Linked DNA regions of Homo sapiens: region 1 is linked to region 2. The links come from fine-mapping of genetic effects on gene expression. A gene starts in region 2. The other region holds a variant in brackets. All regions are shown on one strand. Distances are from middle to middle. Region 1 overlaps RC3H2 (ring finger and CCCH-type domains 2). Region 2 holds the start of ZBTB6 (zinc finger and BTB domain containing 6).

The links. PIP is the estimated chance that this variant, and not a neighbour inherited with it, causes the effect.
Region 1: its variant is fine-mapped to the expression of ZBTB6 in whole blood (INTERVAL, PIP 0.93).

The regions. Positions count from the first base shown.
Region 1 is chr9:122,868,831-122,881,611 of GRCh38, reverse strand. RC3H2 (ring finger and CCCH-type domains 2) reads left to right here. Exons shown (of 21, transcript NM_001100588.3): 6 at 818-1,018; 7 at 1,487-1,619; 8 at 1,739-1,857; 9 at 4,029-4,141. It overlaps SNORD90 (small nucleolar RNA, C/D box 90), which reads left to right and starts at 1,293; the gene lies at 1,293-1,399. The variant CTG/G (reference allele first, on the strand shown) is at 7,070.
Region 2 is chr9:122,905,496-122,918,276 of GRCh38, reverse strand. It overlaps ZBTB6 (zinc finger and BTB domain containing 6), which reads left to right and starts at 4,954. Exons shown (of 2, transcript NM_006626.6): 1 at 4,954-5,026; 2 at 6,196-10,221. The coding sequence starts at 6,205. The coding sequence ends at 7,479. It overlaps ZBTB26 (zinc finger and BTB domain containing 26), which reads left to right. Exons shown (of 2, transcript NM_020924.4): 2 at 1-2,711. RefSeq lists enhancers at 2,664-3,421, 4,890-5,119, 5,130-5,239.

The DNA.
Region 1 (12,781 bases), 37 kb after region 2:
CCGTAGTATATAATGGCCTGTATTCTTCTCTAGCCTGTATCATATCTTAACCCTATGTGCTCTGCTTTTTCATGTTTCTGTTTCACCACTTGTTTCTCTTTTAAAAATTCTATTTCTCCCCCTTCTCTTTTTTCCTTTTTTTTTTTTTTTTTTTGAGACGGAGTCTCACTCTGTCCCTCAGGCTGGAGTGCTGTGGTGCTATCTCAGCTCACTGCAACCTCTGCCTCCCGAGTAGGTGGGAGTACAGGCGCCTGCCACCACCATGCCTGACTAGTTTTTGTATTTTTTCTTGAGATGGGGTTTCGTCATGTTGGCCAGGCTGGTCTCAAACTCCTGACTTCAAGTGATCTGCCCACCTCGGCCTCTCAAAGTGCTGGGATTACAGGCATGAGCCACCATCCCTGGCCTCCTCACCTTTCTTTGCTCAGGAAACTCCTGTTTATTGTGCACAAATCAATTCATGTAGCTTTCAGCTGGGAGAAGCCTTTTCTGAAATCCCTTTCTTCTCCCTAATTTAATTCCCTTTCCTCTTTGTTGCCATCAAGCCTTATAACTTTTACTATAATTTTCTACTTACAAGTTTCTCTTTCTTACTAGTGGCTGAAATCATTGAAGGCAAGGATTATGTATTTAGTTATGTAAGTTCTGTTTTGTTCCAGAAAGAATTTGTGGTCAGGACATTATCTTATCTTTGTACCTTATTTCTGTGGTGTCTGATATGTAAGTATCCCCCACCCTCCCTGAAAAAGGAATAAACGAATCAGTTGAAGGGAGAAAGCACAGACCAATTCTGATTTTTCTCTTTTCTATTTTTTAGGTTACCAAAAGAGATGAAGACTCTTCCCTAATGCAGCTGAAGGAGGAATTTCGGAGTTATGAAGCATTACGCAGAGAACATGATGCCCAAATTGTTCATATTGCCATGGAAGCAGGACTCCGTATTTCACCTGAACAGTGGTCCTCTCTTTTGTATGGTGATTTGGCTCATAAATCACACATGCAGTCTATCATTGATAAGGTTTGTGAAATTAGAGATGCTGATGTTCTATCATTGCTGTTACATTGAAGAGTATTAGAATATTCTAAAGAGTCTATACACAAACAGTTGGAGATTCCTATGTTTTTAAATGTCAGACTCTTATAAATTATCCTTATTTTCTTTTTATTTTTCTACTTGCAAAATAAAGGGATGCAACAGGGAAACAAATACATGATACTAGCATAAAAGCAGTGAGGCTTACAAAGTCTCAAATTTATCTATATTCTGACCTCAGAGAGTTAATACAGCTTATAAGTTTTCTAAGTGTCTAATGATGAATTTCATAGGGCAGATTCTGAGGTGAAAATTTAATTCATCACTGATACTCCTACTGTGGAATCTGAAGACACTTGAAAACGTATTAAATATGTTGATAAATTGAAAGTATTTGAGTATAAATGTGTCATAAGAACCAAAGTAAAAAGCATTCTCATTTCTGTTTGTTAGCTACAGTCTCCAGAGTCATTTGCAAAGAGTGTCCAGGAATTGACAATTGTTTTGCAACGAACAGGTGACCCAGCTAACTTAAATAGACTGAGGCCTCATTTAGAGCTTCTTGCAAACATAGACCCTAATCCAGGTATGTGGGAATATGCTCAGTTGCTTATATTTTTTTCTACTTTTGAGGTGAATAACACAAGAGAATTACTGCTAACATTCTTCCCCCCCAACCCCCATGCCCTTGGTGGCTTATTTTAGACGCTGTTTCACCAACTTGGGAGCAGCTGGAAAATGCAATGGTAGCTGTTAAAACAGTAGTTCATGGCCTTGTGGACTTCATACAAAATTATAGTAGAAAAGGCCATGAGACCCCTCAGGTAAGTACATTTATTACATTTCTGACTGCTGTTGTCTCTAACTCAGTTTCATCCTGAACATCTTAACCAGCTGTTTTGTTAATTGGACTCCGTATGTGACTCATAAGTTTCTATCATCTCTATTCTTTTGGGAGGAACCCAGTTTTTAGTGTACTTGGTAAACATTTCATAGCACACCAAGAGTTTAGAGGGTATCTTGGGTGTGAGTATACTTTATTGCAGAATATTTTTGACCAAATGTAGATAATTGATTCCAAACGTTTTGTCTCATTCTTTTCTACTGTGGGAAATTGTCATTTTTTTTCTGTATTGAATTTCTATATGTAAATTTATGGAATTTGAATTTTCTTTCTTTTTTTTTTAGACAAAGTCTCACTCTGTCACCCAGGCTGGAGTGCAGTGACGCTATCTCAGCTCACTGCAACCTCTGCCTCCTGAGTTCAGGTGATTCTCCTGCCTCAGCCTCCCAAGTAACTGGGATTACAGGCAAGTGCCACCACGCCCTGCTAATTTTTGTATTTTTTGTAGAGAGGGTTTTACCATGTTGGCCAGGCTGGTCTCAAACTCCTGACCTCAGGTGATCTGCCCACCTCGGCCTCCCAAAGTGCTGGGATTACAGGCGTGAGCCATCGTGCCTGGCCGAAATTTGAATTTTCAAGATACTTTTCAGTGTACTTTAGAAGTTAAGATATAAACCTGGCCAGGCACAGTGGCTCACGCCTGTAATCCCAGCACTTTGGGAGGTTGAGGTGAGTGGATCACTTGAGGCCAGAAGTTCGAGACCAGCTTGGCCAACATGGTGAAACCCCATCTCTACTAAAAAAAAAAAAATACAAAAATGAGCCAGGCATTGTGGTGGATGCCTGTAATCCCAACTACTGAGACGGCTGAGTCAGGAGAATCGCTTGAACCCGGGAGATGGAGGCTACAGTGAGCCGAGATCGCGCCACTGCACTCCAGCCTGGGCGACAGAGTGACTCTTGTCTCCAAAAATATAAAATAAAAAGAAGTTAAGATATAATCCTTTATACTTATAACTTCTATTTAATAAATTATTATGAGCCATTCACTACATTCAATGTTTTACATGTATTATTTCTTATCCTCACAGCCACCTGCAATGTAGTTGCTGTTTCCAAGCTGAAATTCAAAGAGGTTAAATAACATAAGATTGTGCTGTCAGGGGGCTGGGCGCGGTGGCTCATGTCTATAATCCCAGCACTTTGGGAGGCTGAGGCGGGCGGATCACAAGGTCAGGAGATCGAGACCATCCTGGCTAACATGGTGAAGCCCCATCTCTACTAAAAATACAAAAAATTAGCCGGGCGTGGTGGCAGGCGCCTGTAGTCCCAGCTACTTGGGAGCTCTCTGAGGCAGGGAGAATGGCCTGAACCCGGGAAGTGGAGCTTGCAGTGAGCTGAGATGGCGCCACTGCACTCCAGCCTGGGCAACAGAGCAAGACTCCGTCTCAAAGATAAAAATAAAAAATAAAAAAGGTTGTGCTGTCAGTAAGAGCTGGGATCAAACCTACACTTTGTACTCTTCTCTCCTTATTCTTAGAAGATATTATAACTTAAAATATTAAAAACAAATGTTTTCATCCTAGGCTCATAAGAATAAGAATGTCTTAGATTTTGATGCAAATTGTAGAAGTAATAGTGAAATTTTAATATTCTGCCTCATTGTATGAACTCAAATAGTTTAAGCCTGAGAGTTGCACCCTCAAGCTGACAAGTGAATTGGTAATTTTTCACTTCTAGGTGGAATTGTATTCTACCTTTTCTGAGAAAGTTTAAGTAGACAAAGCTTTTGGTTTTTTTTTAATGCTTTTTAAAATTGTTTGATTTTGGTAGCAGAATTTTAAGACAGCAATAAATTGATGAAAAAATATTTTCTTTTTCTGGGCATTCTGTTAACTAATGAATAAATGGACATAACATTTGAACCAGTTTCGAATAATCTTCAGAAGGAATATCTGAAGTGCCAATTCAGGGTTATGTCACATAACTCACAACAGGAAACAATGGAATATTAGTTGTTTCAGCACAAGAATTACTTGTCTAATGTGAAAAAGAATTAAAGGTGTAATTATAAAGTTCTGAACTTCCTAGAGTGAATAACAAATGGAATCTTCACCTTGCCACTCATTGAATGTGTTCCCATTTTTGTAGCCTCAGCCAAACAGCAAATACAAGACTAGCATGTGCCGAGATTTGCGACAGCAAGGGGGTTGTCCACGAGGAACAAATTGTACATTTGCCCATTCTCAGGAAGAGCTTGAAAAGTAAGTGTTGAGAATTCTGTTTCATATGGGTTTAATTTTTGATTTTTATGGGAATGTTATATACAGTCCTGAAGTTTGTGATGACTTTCAAAAATGCAAGTTAAGGGCTGGGCACCATAGCTCATGCCTGTAGTCCCAGCAGTTTGCGGGGCTGAGGCAGGAGGATTGCTTGTGCTCAGGAGTTTGAGACCAGCCTGGGCAAGATAAGGAGACCCCCGTCTCTACAAAAAATTTAAAAATTAGCTGTGTGGCCCACAGTTGTGGTCCCAGCTGCTCAAAAGACTGAAGTGGAAGGATTGCTTGAACCCCATAGGTCAAGGCTGCAGTGAGTGTGTTCACACCACTGCACTCCAGCCTGAGGGACACAGCAAGACTCTGCCTCACAACAAAACATATAAGATCTGGGTACAAGATTTACATAAGTGATTTAGAACTTTACTCAGTGGTCATATTTTGAGACCATTTTATAGCTGGAATCCATATTTATACTGAGCACCTGTGCAGAATGAAAATACTTGCAGTCTTATTTGCTCAGATTCAGTTAAACCTAGCAGCAAAGTCTCAGGCAAAATGGTAAAGCAGATATATATCCTTTTTACGGCTTTTGGTCTTTTTAACATTCTTTTTCCCTGTGTATTCTTTCTCTTCTCCTATGGTTAACCCCTTTTTCTATGTCCCTTTACCCGAGACCTAAAAGTTAATGTATGTAAGGTTTAATACTATTATCCAATTTTTGTTGTTTTGTTTTTTAACTAAGACTTTCATTTTTGAGACCTCACCAAAAAATTGATCCCAGCTTTTCTACTTTCTGCTGGCCAGTGTATCAACTTTTTTTTTTTTTTTGAGGTGGAGTCTTGCTCTGTCGCCCAGGGTGGAGTGCAGTGGCATGATCTTGGCTCACTGCAACCTCTGCCTCCCCTGTTCAAACGATACTCCTGCCTCAGCCTCCCGAGTAGCTGGAACCACAGGCGCCCACCACCATGCCTGGCCAATTTTTGTATTTTTAGTAGAGACAGGGTTTCACCATGTTCACCAGGCGGGTCTCAAACTCCTGACCTCAAGCGATCTGCCTGCCTTGGCCTCCCAAAGTACTGGGATTACAGACGTGAGCCACCACACCTGCCCTGTCTATCAACTCTTTGTGGGCATATTCATTTTGTTTTTAGATACTTTAAACAAACTGAGCTAATTTTCTCCCATACCTCCTCCTCCTGCCTTCCATTGTACTCACCTCGTGTACCCAGTTTAGCCATCCAGCCTGTTATATATGCTGTGTTATAATAATCATATTTGTCAGCTGTCCTTCCTTAGCTTTTTCTGCTTAATCAGTCAAAAAGTTCTGCCAATTCATCTTCCTATATATTTCTCAGTTCTTTATTCTTCTTTCCATCCTTGTGATCCAAGCTGTCATCTCCTTTTCTCGATCCCTTGTTGCCTTCTCACTAGTCTTAAATCTCTCGCTGTCCACCCCTTCTCCCATTATTTCCCTTAAAACAGAAATATTTTAAAAGCACAGATTTACTCATACCACCCTTCTTCACCTAAGCCTTTGATAGCCTCTCATTGTCCTGTAGATTAAGAAATAAAATCTATGTTGTGGCCTCTAAGACCCTGCATCATCTAATCTGTGTCTGCCTTTCTGATCTCATTACACAACACTAATTGTACTCAAGCCACACTGACCTTCTCTCAGTTTGTGGTATGCACTGTGCTCTTTCCCACCTCAGGTCTTTTACATAATGCTGTTACTCCTAGCCTTGCCTTTGAGACCTTTCCTTTGTCTAGCTCATCCTTCGCTTTTTCAGGGTAATTCCCCTGACACTTCATACTAACCAGCTTCCTCTTTCAAACACTTATCACATAAAATTAATTAGTGGCCTGTTTTAGAGCTTGACAAACTTCTTTATGAAGTCCAGCTAGCAAACATTTTTGGCTTTGTGGGCCACAGAATCTGTTACAACCACTCAGCAGTGCCACTGTAGCAAAAAAACAGCCACAGACAATGCATAAATTGGGCATGGCTGTAAACTTTATTTATAAAAACCCTTTACAGAAACTATGGCCCATGATCTGTTTATTAAATGTTTGTCTATCTTACATAAGTGTAACCCCCGTGGACTATATCTTCATTGTTGTCTCCTTTCCTCAGTGGCTAGCTTGGGCACTGTACATAATGAGCTCTACAAGCAGCAGCATTGTGATAGAGAGAAGATAAGTGTGTGTGCAGTGAAAAGAGCAGAAACATGCTTCTCTTCTCAGTTTTTTTCCCCACTTGAAGTGCCTAGAGAAGAGGATTAAGGAGTCCTAAGGAAAAAAGATGCTGTTTGTACCCAATCGAACTAGTTCTATATACAGAATTTCACATCAAGATAATTTGGGAGACTCCAGGAAATACATTCAGCTTGTCCATACCTGAAATAGAGCTTTTTAGCTAAAAGGGGAGCTTTTGAGAAAGTTCGACTAAAAAAGTCAGAGAAGAAACTGTGGTTTCATTGCCATTCCACCCTCAATTAGTGCCCAGGCTGAAAATCCATTTTCTTCTTTCTCATACCTTCAAACAGACTTCACATTCTTCATCTGCAGTACCTAGTTCAGAACTTTATTATATTTTGCCAGACTTGTAATAGTAGCAGTAAAAATAATAATAGCCAAACTAGGTGTAGTGGCTCATGCCTGTATTCCCAGCAGTTTGGGAGGCAAAGGCAGGAGGATACCTTGAGTCCAGGAGTTTGAGACCAGCCTGGGCAACATAGTGAGACCTCACCTCTACAAAAAAATAAACAAAATTGGCTGAGCATAGTGGCATACGCCTGTCATCTTAGCTACTCAGGAGGCTGAGGTGGGAGGATTGCTTGAACTCGGGAGGTCAGGTCTGCCGTGAACTGAGATTATACCACTGTATTCCAACCCGGGCAGCAGAGCAAGACT[CTG/G]TCTCAAAAATATAAATAAATAAAAATAATAAAATAATAAATATATAAAATATCACTCATTCAAAAATAATAATAATGGCAAAATTATTGGTCACATTTTTAGTGTTTCACATGGTAATCCAGTTGGTTTTACTGCTTCAGTGGCTTTTTATCCAGTATCTTCCTATATCTCAATCTGTCTTTTCCATTTCCACTATTTTCTTTTTAAAATATGTGTGTCTCCTTTAAATTCTTAATTAGTTCCTCAGTACATCACAGAATCTCATCCTGATTTTATCCTCTAGCTCTACTCTGCCATTTGTATACTTTGTTTTTAAGGTATATTCAATTAATCACTGTTGATTACTATATAAATTTCTTTTACTCTTCTTTTCACTTGTCTATATTGTTTATTCCATATTGTATTATTTTCTCTCTCCTCTTTATCTGGATAACTATTTCTAATCATACTCAGATATTATCTTCCCTCCACAGACTTCCCTAGGCAGTGTTAATTGCATCCTTCACCATGCTGCCATAGCACTCCATACATAGTAGTTTAAAAATTATGGTATAGTTAGCTGGGTGTGGTGGCAAGCACCTGTAATCCCAGCTGCTCGGGAGGCTGAGGCGGGAGAATGGCTTGAACTTGGGAGGCAGAGGTTGCAGTGAGCCGAGATGGCGCCACTATACTCCTGTGTGGACGACAGAGCAAGATTCCGTCTCAAAAAAATAAATATAAATAAATAAATAAAAATTATGGTATAGTTATAAAACTACAGTATTATAATTGTTTATTTACATGTGTGTTTTCACTGGACTTCATTTATCTCATGGGTTATTAATCTTTTTTTTTTCTGGAGACAGGGCCTCACTCTATAGTGCAGTGGTATGATCTTGGCTCACTTGCAACTTCTGCCTCCCAGGCTCAGGGGATTCTCCCACCTCAGCCTCTCGAGTAGCTGGGACCACAGACACACGCCACCATGCCTGGCTAAATTTTTTTTATATTTTTTGTAGAGATGGGGATTCACCATGTTGCCCAGGCTGGTCTCGAACTCCTGAGCTCAATCTGCCCACCTCAGCCTCCCAAAGTGCTAGGATTACAGGCATGAGCCATGGCACCTGGCAAGGGTTCTTCATCTTTATATTTCCTGCATCTAGAAAACACCTGATAACATAAACTCAGTATGTTTATGTGGAGGAGCAAATAATATACAGTTCTTACTTCTTATTTCCAACCAGCTTCACACTCTATTGCTGTTTAAACAAACAGGGATAATACAAAGGATTAGAAAAGTAGGTGATGTGACTGTCCTTTCAGTTTAAAAAATACATATTGCTACCTCACTCTGAGCTTTTTGAGGATAGGCTGTTTGTCTTAGTTCACATAACACCAGAAATTCAGCAAATGTTTGTTCAACTTAAATAAATTAATTTTACCTATATTTTCTTTCTCTATTATACACCCCTCTAACCAAACAAAATGTGGATGCTCAATAATCCCTTCTTAGAATACATATTTATTATATGTAAACATAAAATAAATATGTAGAATAAATATTATGTAAATATGTGGATATGTTTTAGAACTAGGATGTTGGGGTTATGTTCCAAAGAATTGCTACATTCTGGGGAGTGTCAAAAGCGAGGGATCAACCAACTCAACAAATAGTGGCCAGGAGCAGTGGCTCATGCCTGTAATCCCAGCACTTTGGGAGGCCAAGGCTGGTGTATCACTTGAGGTCAGGAGTTTGAGACCAGCCTGGCCAGCATGGGGGAAACTCTGTCTCTACTAACAATACAAAAATTAGCCGGGCATGGTGGTGCACGCCTGTAATCCCAGCTACTGGGGAGGCTGAGGCACGAGAATCGCGTGAACCTGGGAGGTAGAGGTTGCAGTGAGCACCACTGCACTCCAACCTGGGTGATAGAGTGAGACTTTGTCTCAAAAAAAAAAGTTATAAAAGATTATTATATACTGGTTACTATTCAAGATGTTTCTAATGGAAAAAGAGGAACAGTAAACATGTAAATAAGCAATTTTGGCCATAGCAAAGAATTTGGATTTTATTCTGTTTGCAATAAGAAGTCATTTTAGAGTTTTATTTAAATGGAATGATGAAATTTTCATTTTGTCTTAGACATATCACTCTGGTGTCTGCATGGATGGAGACAAGTTAAACTTCTATATTGGTCCACAGGTGGGAGTTTGGTAGCTCGGGTAGGACTATAGCAATGGAAATGATGAAAAGTAGTCATACTTAGGATATATTTTGGAAGTAGAGCTGACAACATGGACCAATTGAATGTGGGCTATAAAGAAAAGAGAGGAATCAAGGATGACTCCAAGGTATGGAGCCTGCATAACTTAGTGGTCTCTTGCTGAAATGGGAAATGCATCAGGGCAGAAAATCAGTGGTTCTCTTGGCCATAATGATGTTTGAAGCTTATTCTATATTAATGCAACAAATAATAATTGGGGGCCGGGTGAGGTGGCTCACGCCTGTAATTCCAATACTTTGAAAGGCTGAGGCAAGAAGATCACTTGAGCTCAGGAGTTTGTGACCAGCCTGGGCAACATAGCAAGACCTTGTCTCTACTACAAAAAAAAAAAATTGGCTGGGCATGGTGACTCACTCCTGCCTGGGTGATGGAGACTCTGCCTTTAAAATAATAATAATAATTGGGCACTTGGGATGTTATGAGACAGTGTATTGTGTGCTAAAGATAGAGAGATGCAAGAAAGGCAAAAGTCTTGTCCTCCGGGGGCTTACATTGTAGTAAGAAGACAGACATGAAATAAATAAATATAGCATAATATCTTGTAATGACAGGCAGTATGAAAAAAAAACACAAAGGAGAAAAAGAGTGATTGAGAAAGGGGAGATCTCTTAGATAGAATAGTGTAGGAAAGACTCTTAGAAGATACAACATTTGGCCAGGCGCAGTGGCTCACGCCTGTAATCCCAGCACTTTGGGAGGCCGAGGCAGGCGGATCACAAGGTCAGGAGATCGGGACTATCCTGGCTAACACGATGAAACCCCCCCCCCCACTAACACGGTGAAACCCCGTCTCTACTAAAAACAGAAAAAATTAGCCGGGCCTGGTGGTGGGCAACTGTAGTACCAGCTCCTCGGGAGGCTGAGGCTGGAGAATGGCGTGAACCTGGGAGGTGGAGCTTGCAGTGAGCTGAGATTGCGCCACTGCACTCCAGCCTGGGCAACAGAGCGAGACTCCGTCTCAAAAAAAAAAAAGAAGATACAACATTTGAGCAGGTAGTCAAAGAAGGTGCCCACGAGAAAAAAAGATAATTACCTCAGTGAAGTCTTAGAGGAAGGCAAATGGGCTTGAGACCTAGGCCACAGGTGGTGAGACTGGCTTTAGTCAGGAACAGGAACTCATTGTCCCTTATCTTTAAGAGGAATGTGGCTACAGGTGCAGGAAGGTTACTGGAATTGGTAGCGGAAAGATAAATTATTCTCCTCTGCTTTCATCTATTTTCGTGGTTAAGTGGGAAACAATATCATCTAGCTGTAGGAGGGGTGGTTGAAAGTGGAAGGGAAAAGGCTATTGGAGATGGGAAAATGAACTTAGTAAAGAAGCGTATTAATGAATTATTTATAATTTTGAAGGGATTATAGACAGCGTGATTGCACAATTTTTCTCCAACATTTAGCTGCTTGGTAGCAGGCACAAAATAAGTAAAGAATTGGATTGAGCTTTTACCAAATGAGATACAGAGGGAGTGGATCAAGGGAGTTAAAAATTATTTACAAGGGAGGGATTAATGGTAGATAGTGGATTCTAAGATGGGTAAGAAGGGATTTAAAAAGAATAGGGAGAGTTACGCATGGTGGTGCACACCTGTAGTCCCAGCTACTCTGGAGGCAGAGCTGGGAGGATCACTTGCATTTAGGATTTAAGGCAGTCTAGGCAACATAGTGAGATCCTGTCCCTGAAAAGGCAGCCTTTAGCTGCCCCAATACTAAGAATTCAGTGTATATCCCTACTTGTCACTTGCTTTACCTCACTTGGTTAAGATTTTATTTCTCCTGACTCTTTTTTGAGAGGTTCATAGTTAAAACTTTATTTTTTGCTTTCTAGAGCAACCTTGTGGATTATCTCAGTTTGTTGTTTTTTTTTTGTTTGTTTGTTTGTTTGTTTGTTTGTTTGTTTGTTTTTGGAGACAGAGTCTTGCTCTGTCGGCCAGGCTGGAGTACAGTGGCACAATCTCGGCTCACTGCAACCTCTGTCTCCCAGGCTCAAGCAATTCTCCTGCTTCAGCCTCCCAAGTAGCTGGGATTACAGGCATGTCCCACCACTTCTGGCTAATTTTTGTATTTTTAATAGAGACGGGGTTTCACCATGTTGGCCAGGCTGGTCTTGAACTCCTGACCTCAGGTAATCCACTCGCCTCAGCCTCCCAAGGTGCTGGGATTACAGGTGTGAGCCACCATGCCCGGCCAAGTTTTATTTTTTGAGGATGGAAAGCAAGGAGACACGATATTCTGTATAGGAACTCTGAGGAAAAGAATAATGAGAGTAGGTTTCAGAGAGAATGTGGAGGAAGGCATAGGGATCTTTGGGCCCCTCCAGACAACCAGATTGTCTTCCTGAAATATAGGTCTGCTCATGCCCTTCTTGAAAGAAGTAATTATTGGTTTTCCTCTTATCTATAAGATGATGTTGGCCAGGCACAGTGGCTTATGCCTATAATCCCAGCACTTTGGGAGGCCAAGGCAGGCGGATCACTTGAGGTCAGGAGTTTGAGAACAGCTTGGCCAACATGATGAAACCCCATCTCTACTAAAAATACAAAAATTAGCCAGGTGTGTTGGCAGGCGCGCGCCTATAATGTGCACCTGTACTCCAGAGGCTGAGGCAGGAGAATTGCTTGAACCCGGGAAGCAGAGGTTGCAGTGAGCTGAGATCACACTATTGCACTCCAGCCTGGGTGACGAGCAAAACTCCGCCTCAAAAAAAAAAAAAAAAAAAAATCGTGTAAACTGGCCATCACCTGTTTTTTTAATATTCTGTTACTTCACTTTTAGCCAGTCTAATCTAGGAGCACTTGTCTTTTATTGAGCATCACCTTCCTCTGCCAATGTGTACATGTTAAAGAGAAGGAGAAGAGAAGGACTGAATAATGAAGTTGTTTATAGATACCAGAGGACTAAAAGGGAAACTATTGTGAAGGCATTGCTTACTACTAACACTTTATATTTAATTACCATATGTTTATATATAACATTAATAACATTACTTTAGGCATATATAATTATGACACCAAATATGTATAGTCTTCTTTCTGTTCGTGAACTTAATTTTTCACCGCTTTAAAAATGTTGTAGGGGCCAGGCATGGTGGCTCACACCCGTAATCCCAGCACTTTGGGAGGCCGAAGTGGGCAGATCACCTGAGGTCAGGATTTTGAGACCAGCCTGGCCAACATGGCAAAACCCCATCTCTACTAAAAATACAAAAGTTAACCAGGCGTGGTGGCAGGCACGTGCCTGTAATCCCAGCTACTTGGGAGGCTGAGGCAGAAGAATCACTTGAACCCAGGAGGCGGAGGTTGCAGTGAGCCGAGATCGCGCCATTGCACTGTAACCTGGGCGACAAGAGTGGAACTTAACCCCCCCACAAAAAAAAAAAAAAAAAACACATACACACACACACACACACACACACACACACACACACACACACACACACACATATAGGAGG
Region 2 (12,781 bases):
TTAATAACGTCACCTACTCTCCACTAATAGATGCTATGCTAAGAGAAGTGAATAATCTTTCTTTGGTAGAAAATAGGCTGAGATATAAGGTGATATTGCTATTGACCTGAAAATGTGATAGAACTTCTGGTTGCCTATTGATTATTCCTCCATGTCTGATAAATGAATCTGCTTCCTACCATTTGTACTTGTCTTGGAGCTGGCTATAAAGAAGTATGCTGGTTTGTTATGTACTCTTTTCAACAGTATCATAGCCCAACTTCATCTCATTGAATTGTTCACATATACCAGAGTACTCTCTCTTGAGGAACACCTGCAGGCAGATAGTTAGGGATGACCATGAGGAGCATAATCAACAGGGATAGAAGTACACTTATACAACAGCACTTACATGGGCGGTTTCTCTGGTAGCATGTCCCATAAGAGGCCATATGCTTATAATTAATGTGTAACTTGTTGATGCTTTTGAGATCAGGACTGCTCCAGGCACGCTAAAAATGTGCTAAAGTATAGTGGGCTCTCTAAAAAGAGGCTATTTGGGAGTCTCTGAATTTTGTTTCAGAGTTTAGCCATCAGAAAGGTGAGTTTGGCCATCAGAGTTTTGTCCTGTGCACCATAAAAGTCTCTGAATTTTCGTTTCCTCATGTACCTTAATTTCTAAAACGGATGATAAAAGTTAGGTTGGACACAGAAGGGGCAATCAAATTTCTGTATTCAGATACCTCTTAAAGGTACACTGTGCCACCTTGCTGCCTTTGATTGCAAATACAAAGTTAATTTTCAAAAAGGAAAAACAAAACAGCTCTTTTTCCTAAAACACATGTTGTACTTCAGACCTAAAATTCTAAGTCTTATTTGTTTCTCACCCATGAGTTAGATTTAGGTAATAGTATTAGTAGAGTCCTTAGAGAATCTTAAGAGGTCATTTACTCCACCTCTTTCATTTTAAATTGGGGTATCCAAAGCCTGAAGAGGTGGCCTGGCCAATATTGACCAAGGTATAACTAAATATGAGCTAGCATCTTCTTCCTTCTTCTCGCTATCCCTTGGCTTTAAAAGATTTAGTACATGAAGAATAATGCATTAGCAAAAAGCTCCTAGTTTGTGTTTCCCCTTTGTGTCTCCCTGTTGGCTTTCTGAGACAACCTGAATTTTGCCAACAAAATATCGCAGAGGGATTTATATTAATTATTTTTTAGTTAGATGAATATTATATTCTTCCCATCCAAGTGAGTGATTTGCTAGGTTTGTTTAGGGAGGGAAAAAGCAAGAATAATGTGAGAAGAATCTAAATGCGAAGTTGATTTTGTGTGGAAAACTGTTTATTAGTTTCCATCAGGATTTTCTGTTTTTATTTTTGAGCTATGAGAGTGCATGCAGATTTGAAAAATTAGGCTTGCATAGTCAGAGGGGATCTTCAATTGTTATATTTGATACGTTTACATGTATCATTGTTATCATATGTAAATTATCATCATGTGAGTCAGATGTGAAGTATGATTTTTGTCTTTTGTTCAAATATTTAAAATGATAATACAGTTGAGTGGTAAGACTAATAGGTACCTTATGCCTAACATCACTCATTATATGGTCTAATGATGCTTCCTAGCATTGTGATTTTTACATGATCCAGCCAAAGAGTACCAATTCTATGCAATAGTGAGACTCTACCCTGTCAACCAAACAGCATTTTTTGGTATTTTCTGTCAACATCATTTCTTCACAGGGAAATTTCAAGTTGGAGTGCTTCGTTTGCTCACATTCATGTCTTGTTTTTGTTACTGGTTTGAAGACTAAAAGGCACGGGTTCAAATAAGATTGGTCTCTTTGGTTGGAGACTATTTCTGGGTTCATTCAGTTGTTCAAGAAACATTAGTTAAGCACCTACTGTTGCTAGACACTATGCTAGATACTGAGGATAATGAAGGTAAGATTGATATAGTCCCTGCCCTCATGGAGCTTATAGTCTCATGTGGTCTTAGTGAAACAAAGTCTCAATTTGCTTTTATACTAGAAATAATAAAGAAAGCTGCCTTGCTGTATTCGATCAGTTAAAATCAGCAACTTTGTGCTTTTGTATCAGTAAAACATTTAGTTCTCACCTTTTGAAAATGCAAACCACTGAAGTGATTTACAGTCTCCTCCATTTTTGGCTGGAGAGGTGTTCTGTTTCTGTGAGACATTTTTCTAATTTTTGTGGAACTTCACTTTCCTCCTTCTTTGCTTATACGTGTTTGTTAGATTATATTGCAAAGAAGTCAAGTTACTGATATCCAGTATTTTACAGAGGAAGATGACTTTCAAAACTAGTCATATTTCTGTAGAGGAGGAAGATTTTTAAAACCTTTATCATTCAGCATTTGTATTTTATGGATCCCCAGGAGAACTAAAAAGGAGATGACTCTCTACCATAGTTTGGTTTAAAAAAAAATTACTCTGTCAGTTATTTATTTATTATTTAATACTAAACTCCAAACTGAAGTGGCTCTGAGGTAAATCAGATATGATTTTAATTTAAGTTTCTTTATTAGCAGATCTATAAATGGAAGGTGACCAATGTCACTGCTTCTAAAATACTGTCCTAAACAACCCAGAAGATTTTATTTCAGCTCATGAATAGCTGTTCTAAATCTGTTGTATGTTAGACATACTATGAACTACCTCTTCACTTATTATGGGGAAGTTTCCTTAATAAAAGTGTGACGATTAAAGCTCTGGTGTCATTGGTTATTTTCTCACTCTCCCCTCCTTCTATTCTTTTTTAATTGCTTTACTTTGAATACAGGAAGGTCTTCTTTATGTATAGTCTTAAAAATACATATTAAGCATGCTGAGCTTGCCTTCAGAAAAAAATACGAATTAATCAGAAAGTTGTTACTAGATTCATTTACTTCCACGAGAACCTGTTGCTGGAGGAGCAGAGCAACTGCCTTTAAGAATTGGTTCAGAGGCGGCCGGGCGCGGTGGCTCACGCCTGTAATCCCAGCACTTTGGGAGGCCGAGGCGGGTGGATCACAAGGTCAGGAGATCGAGACCATCCTGGCTAACACGGTGAAACCCCGTCTCTACTAAAAATACAAAAAATTAGCCGGGCCTGGTGGCAGGGCATTAGTCCCAGCTACTCGGGAGGCTGAGGCAGGAGAATGGCGTGAACCCGAGAGGCGGAGCTTGCAGTGAGCCAAGATCGCACCACTGCACTCCAGTCTGGGCGACAGAGCGAGACTTTGTCTCAAAAAAAAAAAAAAAAAAAAAAAAAAAGGAATAGAATTGGTGCAGAGGCCGGGCGCGGCGGCTCATGCCTGTAATCCCAGCACTTTGGGAGGCCAAGGCGGGTGGATCACCTGAGGTCAGGAGTTCGAGACCGGCCTGGCCAACATGGTGAAACCCCGTCTCTACCAAAAATACAAAAAGTAGCTGGGTGTGGTGGCAGGCACCTGTAATCCCAGCTACTCGGGAGGCTGAGGCAGGAGAATTGCTTGAACCTGCTAGGCGGAGGTTGCGGTAGGCCGAGATCGTGCCACTGCACTCCAGCCTGGACCACAGAGTGAGACTCTGTCTCAAAAAAAAAAGAAAAAGAATTTCTTCAGTCATATCTTCATTCAGCACAAATACTTGATGCCTACCAAGTGCTAGACTTCGAGAATACAAAGATCAGTAAGCCACTGTCCTAAATAACTCTGCCTAGATGAGGCACAAATTAATACAGGCGTGTTAAGTGCAATAATGAAGGCAGGAAAAGGGATTACAGGTTTCAAACTGGGAACCAATTATCTTAGGGCAGTTCAGGATGGCTTCAGGATGATGAGATTTATAAACGGGTTCTTTAAAGATACGTTGGGGAAGGCCGGGCTCGGTGGCTCACGCCTGTAATCCCAGCACTTTGGGAGGCCAAGGCGGGCGGATCACGAGGTCAGGAGATCGAGACCATCCTGGCTAACACGGTGAAACCCCGTCTCTACTAAAAATACAAAAAAAAAAAAATTAGCCAGGCGAAGTGGCGGGCACCTGAAGTCCCAGCTTACTCGGGAGGCTGAGGCAGGAGAATGGCGTGAACCCAGGAGGCGGAGCTTGCAGTGAGCCGAGATCCTGCCGCTGCACTCCAGCCTGGGCGACAGAGAGAGACTCCGTCTCAAAAAAAAAAAAAAAAAGCCTGGGGAAAAGGCTAGGGCACGTCAGAGGAAACAGCTGGGCCAAAAGTTTTGGGATGGAGGAACGCATTTAAGTGTGAAGCTAGATCCAGAGGTTGGGGCCATCTCCTGATGGGGCATTATCTAGGCAATCTCGAATACGGATCTTTATGATAGTTTCTGCTCTGCCACCTTTCAAGTTGTAGGTGGCCCCAATAAGGAGAGGAATCGTCCCAGAATAATCCATAAAAGGTCTGGTTACTCTGACAGACGTGCCGTAACCGAACCTCAAACCCCGTCTCCAATTCGGATGTTCAGGAGGACTCACAAAAGGAAATGGCTCGGCTGGGCGCGGTGGCTCAACCCGGTAATCCCAGCATTTAGGGAGGCCGAGGCGGGCGGATCTCCTGAGGTCAGGAGTTCGATACCAGCCTAGCCAACATGGTGAAACCCCGTCTCTACTAAAAATACAAAAATGAGCCGGGCGTGGTGGCGGGCGCCTGTAATCTCAGCTACTTGGGAGGCTGCGGAGCGAGAGTCGCTTGAACCCGGGAGGCGAAGGTTGCAGTGAGCCGAAATCGCGCCATTGCACTCCAGCCTGGGCAACAAGAGCGAAACTCCGTCTTAAAAAAAAAAAGGGATGGTGGGGGAAAACGGCTCGAGTGCCGAAACTGGGACAAGAGAGATGGGGCTTGCCGGCATTCAGGAGCCTTTCTGTCATTCCAAGAGGGGGGAAGTGAGGAAGGAAGACCGTCTCAGAATGTCCTTCCGGGGCGCCTAGAGGGCCCCAGTAAAGAATAAAGCTGGTTGGCACCGGATGTGTTTTCTTCCAGGCTAAGTCCATCTTCCGGCTTGGGCAGACGCTGCCGCGGAATCCTTGACTCTAGTTTTCTGAGTCGGTGAGTGAGTGCAAAGTAGATTCCTCAGGTGGAGGGTGCCTGAGGAAGAGGAGGAGGAGGAGGAGGACAGCTGGGCTCGGCCCCGGAGTGGCTAATCTTGTGCTGCAACCACTGGGCCGACAGGGCCTTGGCCCTTCGCAGGGTTGCCTCCAGAATACCTGTGTGCTGAACCTGGCATCCGGTTTCAGTTCAGCAGATGTTCCCTGAGCTCCTCCTGCTCTGTGTGGGCCCCTGAGCTCGGTGCAGGAACACAGATGCATCAGGCACCATCTCGCGGTGCTCAGAGAGCAGCTGACTCTCTCTGGTTGAAACGGGAGGTGGAGTCATATTAGTTTTACTTGATTTGGGCTTAAAGGAGCCTAATCACTAGCTGAAAAAAGGAACTGGAAACGCGAATGTAAGAAATGTGTATTCGTGTCTTTTTGTCTGGGTAATGATGGAAAAATTTAGTATTGAACGAGGTTCGAGTATGAAAAAGAGAATAGAAGGTGATAAAGCCATAAAGATGGGTTAGAGCCAAATCGTGATGGGTCTCGTATTCTTTCCTAAGAAATCTGGACTGTCCCGGAGGTAGAGAAGAACGATAGAAGATTTAAAGCAGAAAAGGGAAATTAAAAATAAAATAAAATAAGGGTTGTTAATCCTGGTGGCACTCAGGCGGGTAATCTGGCATACAGAAGAGTGTGGTATAAAGAAGACCTGTTGGAAGACATTGCAGTTGTCCAGGTGAACCGGAAGGAGGACCTGTTGTAGTGGTGGGGAGTAGGAAGTTTGGAGATTACGTTAAAGTTGCTAATTGGATATATTATGTTAAATCAACTTTTTGGTGGTCACAGTGCTTATATTGGATATTCAAAATTGATAGATTGTTCTTGACCACAAGGCACACAACATTTAGCAAAAGAAACAAGCTAGAAACTGTTCACTACAATTCATTGTAATGAATGTTGTAACAAAGTTATGAAAAATGTGCTATGAGATCATAGAGAAGTGCATTATAAAGTTCTCGTTTTGAGATGGTGGCATAAAGGTTCATAACACCTACATTAGACTTTGAGTCTTCTTCTTCCTAATTCAGGTTTGGGGTTTTTCGTTTGTTTTCACCATTACAGCATGGGAAAGCATTCCCTATCCTTATTACATCAATGTTTGTGTTTTATTTTGCTTAGATTGTGATCATGGCTGCTGAGTCTGATGTTCTGCATTTCCAGTTTGAACAGCAAGGAGATGTGGTCTTGCAGAAAATGAATCTTTTGAGACAGCAGAATTTATTTTGTGATGTATCAATTTACATTAATGACACTGAGTTCCAGGGGCACAAGGTGATTTTGGCTGCTTGCTCCACTTTTATGAGAGATCAGTTTTTACTCACACAGTCAAAACATGTCAGAATCACCATCTTACAGAGTGCAGAAGTTGGCAGAAAATTGTTACTGTCTTGCTATACTGGAGCACTTGAAGTTAAAAGGAAAGAGCTTTTGAAATACTTGACTGCTGCCAGTTACCTTCAGATGGTTCACATTGTGGAAAAGTGCACAGAAGCTTTGTCAAAGTATCTGGAAATTGATCTTTCTATGAAAAACAACAACCAACACACTGACCTGTGTCAGTCTTCTGATCCTGATGTTAAGAATGAAGATGAAAATTCTGATAAAGACTGTGAGATAATTGAAATTTCAGAAGATAGTCCTGTAAACATAGATTTCCATGTTAAAGAAGAGGAAAGCAATGCTTTGCAGTCTACAGTAGAGAGTCTGACATCAGAGAGAAAGGAAATGAAGTCACCAGAGCTGTCTACAGTAGACATAGGTTTTAAAGACAATGAAATTTGTATCCTTCATGTAGAATCCATCAGTACAGCTGGTGTCGAAAATGGGCAGTTTTCACAGCCTTGTACCTCTTCAAAAGCAAGCATGTATTTCTCTGAAACACAGCATTCATTGATCAATTCTACAGTTGAGAGCAGAGTGGCTGAAGTTCCTGGGAATCAAGATCAGGGCTTATTTTGTGAGAATACTGAAGGAAGTTATGGTACAGTGAGTGAGATTCAGAATCTGGAGGAAGGTTATTCACTGAGGCACCAGTGCCCCAGGTGTCCTCGAGGCTTTCTTCATGTTGAAAACTATCTGCGCCACCTTAAAATGCATAAACTATTCTTATGCTTACAGTGCGGAAAAACATTTACACAGAAGAAAAATCTCAACCGACACATCCGAGGACACATGGGCATACGGCCCTTTCAGTGTACTGTGTGCTTGAAGACATTTACTGCCAAAAGCACACTTCAGGACCACTTGAACATACACAGTGGGGATCGGCCATACAAATGCCACTGTTGTGATATGGATTTCAAGCACAAGTCTGCTCTCAAAAAGCACTTAACCTCTGTCCATGGCAGAAGCAGTGGTGAAAAACTATCTAGGCCTGATCTCAAAAGGCAAAGTCTACTATAATTATAATCACAGACTTGTTATATAAAGTTTGTATTATTCTATTACGCAAGTCTTTCTGTAGAGATGCAGCATTTGTAATATTTCATCCCCCCAATCTTTGTTTCTTATATTTTGTCGGCTTACACATAATCATTCTTTCTGAACTTCTAACAGTTCCAAAGTTATGGGAGGCACAGTAAAGCTGATGGGATTCTGTCTCATCTCATACCTTACATATAAGTCTCAGTAGTATCCCTAGAGAAATAGTGTTCCTCTCTTATATATTCTTGATTCTAGTGACAAAGGATCCAGCAGTATTTGCAGATTCCGATTTGGAGTCTCTAGGTAATTGATTTAAGTATAAAATCCAATCATATAAAAACTTTAATGAATTAGGATAACAAGAAGAGAAAATAAAGGTAAAAACACTATTACCTGTTTCTAGTCACTTTAGAACAGATGGCACTAAAAAAATTTTTTTTTAACTTTTTACCAGCTGTTCTTGGATTCCAAACTAAACACCAAGATACTTTTCATTTTAAAATGTATAAAGTAACAATTCAGATTCACTTGGGAATAGCAGAATTTTTTTATACAGGGTTAATAATCCTTAAAATACTTTTATTTCCATGCCTTATTAGTATACATACTTAAGAAATGGTTCATTGGGCCCGAGTTTCTTGATTTTATTTAATACAATCGGATTTAATAATTTTGTGGCCAGTAAAATTATACCATTGGCATGAAGCTGTGAAAAATGAGAAATTCTACCTTTACCAGGGATATCTGTTCTACTGTTTTAAAAGTTCCTCTCTATTTTATTTTTTATTTAACATGAAGTAAAATTGAAATTTCTTCTTGGTGTATAGTTCTGTGAATTTTAACAGAAAGATTTGTGCACCACTACTGCAGTCGGTACAGAACAGTTCCTTCACTCCCAATAGCTCTCTTATGCTGTCCCTTTGTAGTCAGCTCCTTCTAGCTCTAATCCTGGCAACAGTTCTCCGTCACTATTATTTTGCCTTTTCTGGACTGTCATATAAACAGAATCTTATAGTACGTTCCCTCTTGAAATGCTTTTTCACCCAGCATAATGACTTTGAGGTTCATCCATGTCATTTTAAATTTTGAATTGGCAATATATATTCTAGCTGTTACTAGATGAGCAATTTAAAAAGGTGTAGCTATTAGTGTTGTATTTTTTCATTTACATTAATGTAATTTCCATTCACTATGTGTTGATAAAAATCTTAACCATCCCTAGAGTTTTATATTTCCAAAAATATGCCAAAAGGAAAACTATGACTGTATGATTATTTTAGCGAGAGTCATATTTGAGATGGTGTTCTGAGCCATAGTTCTCTAACATCTCCGTCTACATATAACACAAAACTTTTATAAATTATTTTAACAAAGATTAAAATATACTGCAGGGCAAATAATATTCTCTAAAACACAGGAACTGCTTTTCGTAAAGAAGACTGACTAGATGCATCTTTCTTTGAAGCTGTTCTAGTCCTCCTCTAGTTAACTTAGCTTTATGTAGAATTTCTACTGTATTTAATTTCTATTGAAGCCCTTCTGTATTTTAAAATGTAATATACTTTGTACCATTTATAAAAATTGTGTGATGAATGAATCACATGTTCGTTGTTATAAGTGTTAACCTTTTTTTGACAATTTTGTGGGAAAGACATTCTCCACTGAATTTTAACTTTCCTTGAGACTTTCAAGAATGCAGGTCTCGTTTGATGAAAAAACCGACTTCATAACCCAATGTTACTAGTTAGCGACATTGTGCTGAATTTCTCCTTGAACTTTTTAACTTTATATGTAAAATAACTTTGATCTTGGTCATTTGAAAGATCATTTCCAGGTCTAAAATTCCATGATTTTGTATTTAATTCTTCCTGAGAACAGAAGAGGGGAAAGCAAGAGAGGACGGTTTTGTGTCTTTATGAACTTTGTTACTTAAGTACTCCATTGGAGACATAATTTTTCTAATTAGTGGATCTTTTTCCACTGGAAAGTGTGATAGCTCATTGCTAATTTTTCATTCATAGTTCATTGCTTCCATTTGACCTAAGATTGGCCATTTGTTGGTGTGAAAATATTTTCTTTTCAGAAATAGTTTACTAGTGATTGAAGTACTTTTCTTATTTTTGCTTCCTATTATAAAATGGCGTGGGGGGAAGGGGGAAGGATGGAGATGGGAGGAGAGGGTAAAAGAATAGTACTCTGATTTTTTAAGAATTAGTATCTACTATCTTGGATATTTGAAAAAAAATTGGTTGAAACTATGTTTAAGTTTTATGTGTGCCTTGTAAGATTGTTGTAAAATTTTTTGTGAGCACTTTGAGATTTTTGCTGGGGGAGGGGTGTTTTGTGAAAGTGATGGTTATTATTTATATTATTTATTCCTGTTCAGTAGCACGGAATGATCTCCAAACATTCCTAGGAGAGTGTCTGTTTGCATGATATGTCTAAAAATTTTCAGGAAAATGGAATCTTTTTTTAAAGTTCAGGTATGACAAAGTATAGAATTTATTCATTTAACATATTCACATTTAGTTTATGTTTCTGATATGACAGAAAAATGAAAAGTGTTTGAGTTCAGCCTCTTCATTTACTCCATTTACATATAAAAGATCTTGAAAAGGTAGTTGTTACTTCGTTGTCAGAGAAAAACACTTGCCCTTTTTCCTGGGATGTAACTATCTTACATGTTTACATAAGAAATAATAAACTGGAGGTGGGAATGGAGAACAATGTGTTTTGTCTTCATCTTTGAATTTTAAAGGATACAATTTAAAGGATACAATTTCTCCTGACTATACATTAATCATTCATCTAGCAAATACTTCCTGAGTCCTTACAATGAAATATAAGTTAGGTATACAGACAAAAATTCCTGCTCTTGTGAAACATCTTAGTGAAGGGAGACAAACAGTAAACAAGTAAGTAAAATCCATGTATGTCAAATTTTGAGAAGGAATTTGGAGAAAAATCAGGAATAGGGAGTACCAGAGAAGGGGGATGGAATTGCAATTTTAAATATGGTGGTCAGCGCCGGGCGCCGAGGCTCAGGCCTGTAATCCTAACACTTAGGGAGGCCGAGGCTGGCAGATCACTTGAGGTCAGGAGTTTGAGACAAGCCTGGCCAACCTGATGAAAACCCTTCACTAAAAATACAAAAATTAGCCGGGCATGGTAGCGCTTGCCTGTAATCCCAGCTACTCGGGAGTCTGAGACAGGAGAATCCGTTGAACCTGGGAGGCAGAGGTTGCAGTAAGCCAATATCGCACCGCTGCAGTCAGCCTAACTGAGGGAGCAAGACCCCATCTCAAAAATAAATATGGTGACCAGGACACCTTTGAAAAATCTCGGATTATCAGAAATATATATTCTTCTGTCTAGTGAAATGTAAATATATCCAGTAGAATAGAAAAATTTGGCCTGGACTGGTGGCTCACGCCTGCAATCCCAGCACTTTTGGAGGCCGAGGCAGGCGGGTCTTCTGAGGTCAGGAGTTCAAGACCAGCCTGGCCAACATGGTGAAAACCCGTCTCTACAAAAATACAAAAAAGAAATTTAGCCGGGCATGATGACGGGTGCCTGTAATTCCAGCTACTGGGGAGGCTAAGGCAGGAGAATTCCTTGAACCCAGGAGGTGGAGGTTGCAGTGAGCTGAGATCACACCATTGCACTCCAGCCTGTGTGACAGAGTGAGACTCCGTCTCAAAAAAAAAAATATGTACATATATGTATATATAATGTGTATGTTTATATGTGTATATATACTTATATGTATCTATATATGTGTATATATATTTATATGTATGTATATATGTATATATGTGCATATATGTATATATGTGTGTATATATATATATACACAGTAGGGTGGAAAACAAATATGTACATGTAAATTACCTATCACTGTCCAGTTGAAATTACTGAAACAATTATTGGTTGTTAACAGTTCTCTAGGCCTGGCATATGTTTCATAAAGAGAAGAGAACGAAAAAGATAATGTGTGGAAGAAACGTCTTCGATGTGGCCAATGAATCTTTTTTCAAAAACACTGATTTTTGCCTGTCATTCAGACAAATATAATAGGTAATAACTATATATTTTGTTAAAACTGTAGAAGCAACCTTTCCATATTCTAATTTATCGTAGGTTTACTTCGATATTTTTGTTGTTGGGCATCTGATTTCACATTGGAAAGTGCCTTGAGTTTAATTACAAGTCATGGTCATTTTTTTTCTTCTTTTTTTTGTTGAGACGGAGTCTGGCACTGCCCCCCCGCCTGGCTGTAGTGCAATGGCGCGGTCTCGGCTCACTGCAACCTCCGTCTCCCGGGTTCAAGTGATTCTCCTGCCTCAGCCCCCCGAGTAGCTGGGATTACAGGTGCCCGCCACCACACCCGGCTAATTTTTGTATTTTTAGTAGAGCCAGGGTTTCACTATGTTGGCCAGACTGGTCTCTAACTTCTGACCTGGCGGTCCACCCGCTTCGGCCTCCCAAAGTGCTGGTATTACAGGCATCAGCCACCGCGCCCGGCGTCATGGTCATTTTCTAGCCTACATTCTTTAGTTTCTCATCAGTAACAAGGGGTACATTGTATCTGTCTTCTAGGATCACTTTGCTAATTAAATGAAATGTAAATAAAACTAAAATATTTAAAATTAAATATCACCTAACACAGGACCTGCCTGACACATACTAAGTAGTTTATAAATGTTAATTCTGATATCCCTATTCCAAGTCTGTTTCATCTATAAATTATAAACTGTAAGAATAATTCTTACCTTAGTTCGCTGTGTAAAAAGCTTCAACAAATATTTGAGATATGATGCCAGAATTTGTGCTTAAATTTTTTATTTTTGCCAGCTTTTGAGGAGCTCAGAGCTTTCTTCCCCCCCTCCCCCCCCCACTTTGGACTCTTTGTCTAGAAACAGAGTTTTCTCTTTAATAAAGAAGTGAGATGTGGAAGTGCCTGCCAAATACATGTTTTCTTCTTGTTTTTGTAATGGGGAGATTACTTGACATCTTTGTAAAGGGATTGAGGGATCCTGTCGGCATGTCATCACAGGAGTGTGAAGAAGAATGTGACACAGATGTATCAGATTCTGCTCAATGGATTCCACGCTTTTCACGAAGGGAGTTAAGACACTCGCTCAAACCAGCGTCTAGGAAGCCGGCTCAAGGCGCAGATGAATGTGCAGGGAATTTCCCATCAATCCCTTCGGCTTGCCTAGTCCTTCTCACAGTACCTCCCACAGTGCTCCGGGGCTCCCTTGTCACGTGATCGGGGTGG